Regions from separate parts of the Homo sapiens genome. Here region 1 is linked to region 2. The links come from fine-mapping of genetic effects on gene expression. A gene starts in region 2. The other region holds a variant in brackets. All regions are shown on one strand. Distances are between the middles of the regions. Region 1 has its middle 20 kb from the start of PDZD8. Region 2 holds the start of PDZD8 (PDZ domain containing 8).

Evidence for each region.
Region 1: its variant is fine-mapped to the expression of PDZD8 in whole blood (TOPMed, PIP above 0.99).

What each region holds. Positions count from the first base shown.
Region 1 is chr10:117,393,132-117,398,511 of GRCh38, reverse strand. No RefSeq gene overlaps it. Among named protein-coding and RNA genes, the nearest start is that of PDZD8, 20 kb to the right of the region's middle. The variant T/AT (reference allele first, on the strand shown) is at 2,195.
Region 2 is chr10:117,372,839-117,378,218 of GRCh38, reverse strand. It overlaps PDZD8 (PDZ domain containing 8), which reads left to right and starts at 2,779. Exons shown (of 5, transcript NM_173791.5): 1 at 2,779-3,863. The coding sequence starts at 2,992. RefSeq lists an enhancer at 2,339-2,458 and silencers at 2,689-3,008, 3,109-3,288.

The sequences.
Region 1 (5,380 bases), 20 kb before region 2:
ATAATATCACACACACACTGATATGGTTTGGCTCTGTGTCCCCACCCAAATCGCAGGCCAAATTGTAATCCCCACATGTTGGAGGAGGGGTCTGGTGGGAGGTGATTGGATCATGGGGGCAGACTTCCCCCTTGCTGTTCTCATGATAGTATATGAGTTCTCATGAGATCTTGTTGCTTTAAAAGTGTGTAGCGCTTCCCCTTTATTCTTTCTGTCTCCTGCTAGGCCATGGTAACACATGCTTGTTTCCGCTTCACCTTCCGCTATGATGGTAAGTTCCTGAGGCCTTCCAGCCATGCTTCCTGTACAGCCTGCAGAACTGTGAGTCAATTAGACCTCTTGGTAGTTCCTTATAGAAGCATGAGAACAGACTAATACACACACATACACACTTCTTAAAGAACATGTGTGTTCCTTTGTCACATGGGACCTGGTGCTCAGCACTGGCATATCACTACCCCTAATCCTAAACATCTGCTCCTGGCACCAACGCTGCTCAAGCCCTAGGGAACACTTTTCCATATTTCTTACCTTTTATCCTCAAAACAAAGGCTACCTGTCCTGAAGGTCATAAAGGTTTTTGGGTTGCTGCTGCCAACATCAGAGATGGACACAGCTTCAGAGGGCAGAGAGCATTTTAGTGGTAGGGACCATTAGGAAGAGAAAAAGCAAATTAATTAACTTGTCAATTTCTTCCTCCCAGAGAGCATGAATAAAACAGATTTTTGTTTCGCATAGTATCATTCCCTGTCATGCTGAGCTTTTCTTTTCATTTTATTTCTTTCATTTGTGGTTCCTAAACTCTTCATGAATTACACGAATCACATAATAAAATGTCACCATGTGGTTAGGCTGTAGTAGAACCATCACGTATCAACTATCCATAACCCAATGTCATGATTGACATCTTGAAGATATGATTTGTAATTTTAGGCATGAAATAAGTGCATGTAGTACTGATTATTTGTATTGGCAACTAAGTTAAAACGGTGAATGCTAGAATACTGAATAGTTTATTTTTGTAAAAGTATTTATTATGATTTAACTCCACTGTTAAAATTTTAAACAAAAAATGTAACTTTACTGAAATAATTTCATCTATAATTTTTACACTCATTAATTTATAATTTCTACTTTGCCTTTTTTTTTTTTTTTTTTTTTTTTGAGACGGAGTCTCGCTCTGTTGCTCAGGCTGAAGTGCAATCTCACGATCTCGGCTCACTGCAACTTCCGCCTCCTGGGTTCAAGAGATTCTCCTGCCTCAGCTTCCCAATTAGCTGGGATTACAGGCACCTGCCACCATGCCTGGCTAATTTTTGTATTTTTAGTAGAGCCAGGGTTTCACCATGCTGGCCAGGCTGGTTTTGGACTCTTGACATCAGGTGAACCATCGCCCGCCTCAGCCTCCCAAAGTGCTGGGATTACAGGCATGAGCCACCTCGCCTAACCCTTTTTTTTTTTTTGGAAATGGAGTCTCACTCTGTAGCCAGGCTGGAATGCAGTGGCACGATCTTGGCTCACTGCAACCTCCGCCTCCTGGGTTCAAGTGATTCTCCTGCCTCAGGCTCCTGAGTAGCTGCAACTACAGGCACACGCCACCACGCCCAGCTAATTTTTGTATTTTTAGTAGTGGCAGGGTTTCGCCATGTTGGCCAGAATGGTCTCAATCTCTTGAGATTCGCCCACCTCAGCCTCCCAAAGTGCTAGGATTACAGGCATGAGCCACCATGCCCGACCCTCTACTTTGCCTTTTAATGTAAATATTTTTCATGCTTTAAAAATTTTTTTCAAAAATATTCAACTTTAACTATTACATTTACTTTCATTTTACATTTTTGATGGAAATATATTAAAATTTGATACTTTTTGAATATAATTTTATGTTTTAATCTTTTGGATCATATCAATGGAATGTAAATTATTTGCATACTTTAATTGCAATTAGATAATTAGTTTTTTTCTTGCTGTGAAAGAAAAAAAATTTATGAAATATGTAATGACTCATGATATATGTCTTTATTTTATCACTCATTCAAATATTTCTGGGCCATCAATAGCACGTACACAGTAATACCTGAATTCAGTTATTCTTGATATTTTGTAGACTTTCAGTCAGATAAAAACTATAGTTTTCCAACTTAAAAAGAAAATTTCCATTATGAAGTCGTATTTGTCAATGTAGGGGGAGAAAAAA[T/AT]GTATTTTGCAGCTTGATTTATAATTTTCTATTTTGTTATTATTATTTTTTTTAATTTTTTTTTTTAGAGACAGAGTCTCACTGTTACCCAGGCTGCAGTGCAGTGGTGTGCAATCATAGCAGCCTCAAACTTCTGGGCCCAAGCAATCCTCCTACTTCAGTGTCCCAAGTAACTAAAACTACAGGCATGAGCCAACAGGCCCAGCTAATTTTTGTTGTTGTTGTTGTTGTTTTAATAGAGATAGGGTTCCTATGTTGCCAAGGCTGGCCTCAAGCTCCTTAGCTCAAGCAATCCTCCTGCCTCAGTCTCCCAAATAGCTGGGACTACAACGCATGCCACTTAGTTATAATTTTAAATATTTAGACCATTTGTACTCTAGCCCTGGCCCCACATATGTTGAAGATGAGCCTGACTGCTATAATCAGATGATCAGATAGAGTTTTTTAAAAATTTAACTAATAATAGCTAACTTATTGACACTAAATATGTGCCAGGCCCTGTGTTAAGTACTTTCTACATATTATGCCATTAAATCCTCCCAATAACCCTATGTCATTATTCCCACTTTATTTATTTATTTATTTTTAGCTTTTATTTTAGGTTCTGGGGTATATGTGCAGGTTTGTTATACAGGTAAATTGCATGTCACAGGGGTTTGGTGTACAGATTATTTCATCACCCAGGTAGCATATTGCCCAGGGAATAAGCATAGGTAGTTTTTTTATCCTCACCTTGCTCCCACCCTCCACCCTCAAGTAGGCTGTGTTGTCTATTGTTACCTTCATTGTGTCCATGTGTACTCAATCTTTATCTCCCACTTGTGATAGTTTATCTCCCACATGTGAGTACATATGGTATTTGGTTTTCTGTTCCTGCACTAATTCGCATAGGATAATGACCTCCAGCTCCATGATCTTAATCTATTTTATGACTATGTAGTATTCCATGGCATATATGTACCACATTTTCTTTATCCAGTCTACTACCATTGATGGGCATTTAGGTTGATTCCATGTCTTTGCCATTGTGAATAGTGTTGTGATGAACATACATATGCCTGTGCCTTTGTGGTAGAACAATTTCTATCCCTTTGGGTACACACCCAATAATGGGATTGCTGAGTTGAATGGTAGTTCTAAGTTCTTTGAGAAATCGCCAAACTGCTTTCCACAATGGCTGAACTAATTTTCATTCCCATCAGCAGTGTATAAACGTTTCCTTTTCTCTACAACCTCACCAGCATCTGTTATTTTTTTGACTTTTTAGTAATTGCCATTCTGACGGGTATGAGATGGTATCTCACTGTGGTTTTGATTTGCATTTCTCTAATGATTGGTGATGTTGAGCATTTTTAATATGCTTATTGGTTACATGTATCTCTTCTTTGGAGAAGTGTCAGTTCATATCCTTTGCCCATTTTTTAATGGTATCCCCACTTTATGGAGAGGAACCAGAAACCTGGAGAGTTTCCATGACTGGCTCGTGGTCACACAACCCCTAAGTCCTGGAGCTGGGATTTGATCCCAGGAGGCCTGAGTAACTTTGGGAAAAGGCACTTTGAGAGAGGTGACCTTGATGGGCATCCCTGTGGGGAACTTGGACACATGATCGCAACTGGGAGGGTCCAGGTGCTGGGAGGAAGAGTGGCAAGGAGAAGGCCTCCTGATTCCAGTCTGACTAGAGATCTGATGTCACCCAAGCACCAAAAGCTACCAAGTGTCTGAATGGGTAGGGAGAAGTGCCAGTTTTTACCAATTCTTCATGTTCTTCTGATTTCAGCAATGGATGAGTAAGAAAAATATTCCATTTACTTTTATTACTTTGAATTCTCATTCTCAGTCATTGAACAGGTAAATTCAAAGGGCTGATTCCTTCTTTCCTTCTTTATCCCTCCCTCCATCTTTCTTTCTCCTTCTTTCTCTCCCTGTTTTCTTTTCTCCCTCTCTTTCTTTCTTCAATCACATATATATTGAGCTCCTATTATGTACTAAGCACTCTGCTAGGTAATAAAAAAAAGACAGTGCCTCATCATTATGGGGTTCCCTACGTAGTAGGAAGACAGAGGGCAAACCAACATGAAAATCCTAAAAATTACAACCATGGTGAATGCCATACAGGAGAGATGGAGAATGCTAGGAAGGTGTGTATGTGCTAGGGGAATCTGGCCCAGTCTCAGAGTGTCAGGGAAGACTTCCCTGGAAACCTGTCATTGGATCCAGGTGGTAAGTAAGGTTAACCATACACAGATTTGGGAGAATAGCCAAGCTGAGAAAATAGCTTGGATAGAGGCCCCATGAGGAGAGGGAGCCTATGGGTGGGAATACGAAGATTCTGAGAGAAGGCCAGTGAGGCTGGATGTGTGTTTGGATGAAAGGTTCCGACCATTCCTGACCAGGGGTCAACAAATTATGGCCCATGGGCTGAATTCAGCTACAATGATAGAGCTGAGTAGTTGCAACAGAGACATTATGACCCACAAAGGTGGGAAGAAATTCAGAATGCTGTCTAGAAAATGTATTGTCTGCCTTTTATAGAAAAAGTTTGCAGCCAGGGGCAGTGTTTCACACCTGCAATCCTAGCACTTTGCGAGGCCAAGGTGGGAAGATCATTTGAGCTCAGGAGTTTGAGACCAGCCTGGGCAATATAGAGAGACTTCATCTCTCCTGAAAAATTAAAAATAAAAAAAAATTAACTGGGCTTGTTGGCATGAGCCTGTAGTCCCAGCTACTCAGGAGGCTGAGATGGGAGGATGACTTGAGCCTGGGAGGTCGAGGCTGCAGCGAGCTGTGATCACGCCACTGCACTCCAAACCTGAGCAACAGAATGAGATCCTGTCTCAAAAAAAATTTAAAAAGAAGATAAAAGAAAAAAAAAAGTAGATTTTTTTTTTTTAATAAAAAGTTTTCAGACCTCTGAACCAGATGGTGGAGGTCAGACCTTGCAGGCCCATTGATGATTGTGATCTTTGTCTTAACAGCTACGGGAAACCATCAGAGTGTTTTAAGACTGAAGGAGACAGGGAATAACAGGATCAGATTTCATTAGGCACATTCAGGAGTTGAATATATACTTACATTGTAAGGATATCCCAGGCCAGGCCAGTCCTTCCAAAGATCCCTATAAGGGAATTGTGGCATTAATCTCCTCATAAATGGGTTCTAAGTCTTTCTTGCCTGTGGCAAGTG
Region 2 (5,380 bases):
ATCATTGTGCGAACATCAGAGTGTCCTTACACAAACCTAGATGGGAAACCCTACTACATACCTGGGCCATATTGTATAGCCTATTGTTCCTAGGCTACAAATCTATACAGCACGTTGCTGTACTGAATACTGTAGGCAACCATAACACAATGGTATCTGTGTATCAAAACATCTCTAAACACAGAAATGGCATAGTAAAAATACGGTACTATAATCCTATGGGGCCACCATCCTATAGGCAGTCTGTCGTTAACAAGAACATCCTTCTATGGTGCATGACTGCATATTTGACTTTACAAAAACTCATGATATTTTGATTTCTAAATAATGTTTGAAATATTTAAATATTTCTAAATAACATGCTTAACACTGTGCTTGGCACATGGTCAGTTCTCTGTATTATTATTATTAGTGTTTAATCAATGTTGGTCATGTTTCACACAAGGGAGAATACTTTTTTCTTCCCAAAAGGTTTGCTGAGCTCTTTCATGGATTTGAAGTGTGTCCCTAAGGGGTCAAGTTTTGCTGGGGAATGCAATGACTCTGACTCTGTAAAACAAACTGAGAAGATTTAAGATTCTCACAGGTATTCTGAGGAGCGCAGAAGTGAGAGGAGAAGAGAAAAGAAAGGAGTCTGCAAGATGAAGACTGAGGACTCATTCCCATGAAGACCACAAACTTTCATTGTTGAGGAGGGAGGTGGGTGAAGAATATTTTGCAACTCGGGATGGATCAATATACAGTTTGAGGGTTTTATATTTCAGGAATGTGAATAACTTCTTTCATGCCACCCTACTTCCAGCTTCTGTAACATTTATAATATGCAATGTGCATGAATGTTATGAATAGGTTTACGGTGGAAATCATAGAAGGGTCTACATTTCTCATTTGAGTTGAAACAGTGTAGATCCCAGAGAGCAGCCCAGAAGCAGAGGCCAGGAACCAAAGGGGACCAGAGAACAGAAGTTGCCAAGATCTCCGAAAAATCTCGGCCATGGTTTGAGCATGGTTCCTCAGCAGACACCTATCTTATGTCTTCATAGTAATGAAAGCCATTCTGGTTTCGTATCTGGGCATGATTCGGTAAGGCATGATAAGCCTGGTTCCGAAGTTCTGTACCTGTCCCAGCTGGGTCAGGTCTATTTTTGTGGTAGAATCACCTACAGTTAAGAGAATCCTTGGCTTGGAGGTTTTCTTCTTTTTTTTTTGAGACAGGGTCTTGCACTGTCGCCCAGGCTGGGGTGCAATGGCGTGATCTTGGCTCACTGCAACCCCCGCCTACCGGGTTCAAGTGATTCTCCTGCCTCAGCCTCCTGAGTAGCTGGGACTACAGGCGCGCACCACCACGACCGGTTAATTTTTGTATTTTTAGTATAGACGGGTTTCACCATGTTGGCCAGGCTGGTCTCGATCTCTTGACCTCGTGATCTGCCCGCCTCGGCCTCCCAAAGTGCTGGGATTACAGGCGTGAGCCACCACGCCCGGCCGGCTTGAAGGTTTTCAAGGGCTAGAGAGGAGCCCTGCCCTGGCTCCTTAGGTACAGCCAGAATCGGCCTTTAAGGTATGGGATATCTGACTCCTGCAGGACTGGAACTCCACGTGCTTGGAGGGATAAGCATTTATGATGTAACCACTAAGTAGTCAGAGGGCAGGAGGAGTAACGCTGTTGCTGGGCAACCTGGCTTAGCTTCGTGGCTTTGGTTAAGGTGCTACTCTATGCAAAATTCCTTGCCGTCTTCCCTAATCCGCCTCCCCAATTCTCCCTTCCTGAACATTAGGGAACCCACTGGCCTGCTTACAACTGAAGCAGTTTCTGTGTTAGGGCAGAGAGTAGTGATCAAGACATTAGGGTTTAGTGTTAGATAAACCAGGCTCCACTCTGCGGCCCCACGCAACCTCCCCACGCTCTCTGCACCAGTGTTGGCATCTGTCAAGTGGGTGGGGGCTAACAGTGAATAACTGCCTCATAGATGGACTACCGGCTTAACCAGAGACTGACAGCGGGTCGCATATTAATCTTCCAATCACTTGGCAAACTCGTTTCACTATGCATCTCTCCTCCTGGCTGTTCTTTCAACTTCCTCCTCCCTGAAATTTCGAAGATCCACCTCGGTGGGAAAGTCATTCCGCGTGGCGCGCCCTTTCCCTGCGTCCCTCCTTCCCAGGGCCCACCCTCCGCGGACGCAGAGCGTCTGCCGGGGGGACGGCAGGTCCGCGATGGCTGCCTCTGAGGCAGTCGGTCCCCTCTCGCCGTGGGCTTGGGAAGCGTCCGAAAGGCCCGCTCGGATCGTCTGCGGTGCTGCCCGCAGGGAAAGCGCCGCTGCCAGCCGGGCTGTCACGGGTGCGAGTGGAAGAAGCACACCGCAGGATGAGCGACGCCGCTGCAGAGGTAACCGCGGGGACTGCGGCCAGAGACGGGGGATGGGCGCAGCCGAGGATAACGGGATGGCCGGCATCCGGAACGCGTCAGGCCCGCTCCGCCGGACCGCCTTATCCTCCAGCCCGCGTCCCCAGCCGTCCTCCCAGATCCCGACCGCAGCTCCAGAAGTGACGGCCACGTGGGTGGCGGCGCGCGCCGCGGGGATTGGAATGTTGGCGTGGGGGGACGAGGTTGGAAGGGCCGCAGAGAAGTAAAGGAGGACCCGCGTCCGCGTGCCCGGGCGCCGACTGCTGGGCGACGCCGCCGGGAGCGAGCACGCCTCTGACGTCACGCGCTGCTCGTCCAATGAGTGGAGGCCTGAGGGAGGCGCCGGTCCCGGCCCCGCTGCCGCCGCCGCCACACCGGCCCTTCGGGAGCGTCTGAGGAGGCGCGGGCCGCTGCGGGCTCGGGCGCCGCAGCGCGCCGGCCCGAGCCCCTGGACGAGGCCCACGGAGCCGCTCGCCCCGACCCAGCCGCCCGATGTCCTCAAAATGGAGGCAGCGGGGGCGGCGGCGTGAAGAAAGCGGCGCTGTGGGCGCGGGAGTAGGGGCCCGGGCGGAGGCGGTGGCGGGATGGGGCTGCTGCTCATGATCCTGGCGTCGGCCGTGCTGGGTTCCTTCCTCACGCTCCTCGCCCAGTTCTTCCTGCTGTACCGCAGACAGCCCGAGCCGCCGGCGGACGAGGCCGCCCGCGCGGGCGAGGGCTTCCGCTACATCAAGCCAGTGCCGGGCCTGCTCCTAAGGGAGTACCTTTATGGCGGCGGCCGGGATGAGGAGCCCTCCGGAGCGGCCCCTGAGGGCGGCGCGACCCCCACCGCGGCCCCCGAGACCCCCGCCCCGCCGACGCGGGAGACTTGCTACTTCCTCAACGCCACCATCCTATTCCTGTTCCGGGAGTTGCGGGACACCGCGCTGACCCGCCGCTGGGTCACCAAGAAGATCAAGGTGGAGTTCGAGGAGCTGCTGCAGACCAAGACGGCCGGGCGCCTGCTGGAGGGGCTGAGCCTGCGGGACGTGTTCCTGGGCGAGACGGTGCCCTTCATCAAGACCATCCGGCTCGTGCGGCCAGTCGTGCCCTCGGCCACCGGGGAGCCCGATGGCCCTGAAGGGGAGGCGCTGCCCGCCGCCTGCCCCGAGGAGCTGGCCTTCGAGGCGGAGGTGGAGTACAACGGGGGCTTCCACCTGGCCATCGACGTGGACCTGGTCTTCGGCAAGTCCGCCTACTTGTTTGTCAAGCTGTCCCGCGTGGTGGGAAGGCTGCGCTTGGTCTTTACGCGCGTGCCCTTCACCCACTGGTTCTTCTCCTTCGTGGAAGACCCGCTGATCGACTTCGAGGTGCGCTCCCAGTTTGAAGGGCGGCCCATGCCCCAGCTCACCTCCATCATCGTCAACCAGCTCAAGAAGATCATCAAGCGCAAGCACACCCTACCGAATTACAAGATCAGGTGAGCTGGAGGTCGGGGAGGGGGCCTGGCTGCCGGGAACCCGGGCCTGGGCGGGACGCTGCGTGGATTGGGAAGGGCAAAGGCTCATTTCTGTCCTGGCGCCTGCTTCTGGGGCCTTCCCACCCTGGACAGGGCCCCAGATCAAGGCGAGTCGTGAACACTTGCTTTGCTTCCGAACGGCATTGATAGGAGCTAGAAACCTTTTCGCGTGTTCATGGGGACTCAGGGTGCTGTCAACGCGGGCAGAATCGTCTCCTTTTATAAGCAGCATATTGGAAATGGAAGGGAAGCCTACCCTAATCCCCAGGAGTCGCTTCTGGGACTGTTGAGAAACTCTCCCTCTATGTGGTTGCTGCATTGAGGGCAGCCGCGTCACTGGCTTTGCAGCATCCCCTTGGCCGCTTTGAGAAATTGTTCCTGGACACAGTACACGCGTGAAGAGTGTGCTTATAGCCCAGGTCTGTGCTAATTTGACATTGCAAGCCACTTTTGCTTTGATGGTTTGACACCTTTCAAGGCAGAGGTGGTAACTCTTGCAAAGGAATACTTTTGTGGGTTTTTTTTGTTTTTGTTTTTGAGACAGAGTCTTGCTGTGTCGCCCAGGCTGGAGTACAGTGGCGCGATCTCGGCTTACTGCAACCTCTGCCTCCCAGGTTCGAGCGATTCTCCTGCCTCAGCCTCCCAGGTAGCTGGGGTTACAGGCGTATGGCACCACGCCTTGCTGATTTTTTTTTTTTTTTTTTTTTTTTTTGTATTTTTTAGTAGAGACGGAGTTTCACCGTATTGGCCAGGCTGGTTTCGAACTCCTGACCTCAAGTAATCCGCCTGCCTCGGCCTCCCAAAGTGTTAGGATTACAGGAGTGAACCACCGCGCCCGGCCCGGGAATACTTTCCACAGCAGATGGGAAAGGAGTTGGGAGCCTGTACATAGTGTACTTTACATTTTGTATTAATGTCATTTGCCCATTTTGGGTAGATTGTAGAACACAGATCCAGACTCTGCCCATCAAGCATTTACTCTCTGTGACTGTAAGTTCTTCTCTCAAGGGACCTGAAGTCACTGTACAAATTGTATTTTAATGCTAGGTAGTGATTTTAATTTTGTTTAAGCCTTCCAGCATCTGATGGCTTAAATTTTGTGGTATACAGTTTTGAGTAGTATATAAATTTTGTTTTAATATTGTAGGAGTGGAAGGGGAAAGACTTTTTTAGGGCTAGAGGTGGAGTGGAAGGTGCTTTTTCTTTTGTAAAAAGCTGAATTTTTAACTTCTCTTTCGGTCCTCCTTTAATTTTGTATTCACTAAGACATTTGAGCCTTTAAAATTTTGCCCTTTATTATAAAATTATGTCAGTCTTGTATTTTACTTACCTAATTTTACTTGCCTTTTAGTGGAAGTTGCCTATTTCTGGATCACTAATTTTCTACCAGTGTCAATTTTCAGGAGCAAGATAATCCAGAAATATTTTGGGTTTGGAATGGATTATTGACTTCTGTATGTGGCAGATGTACCTTACCA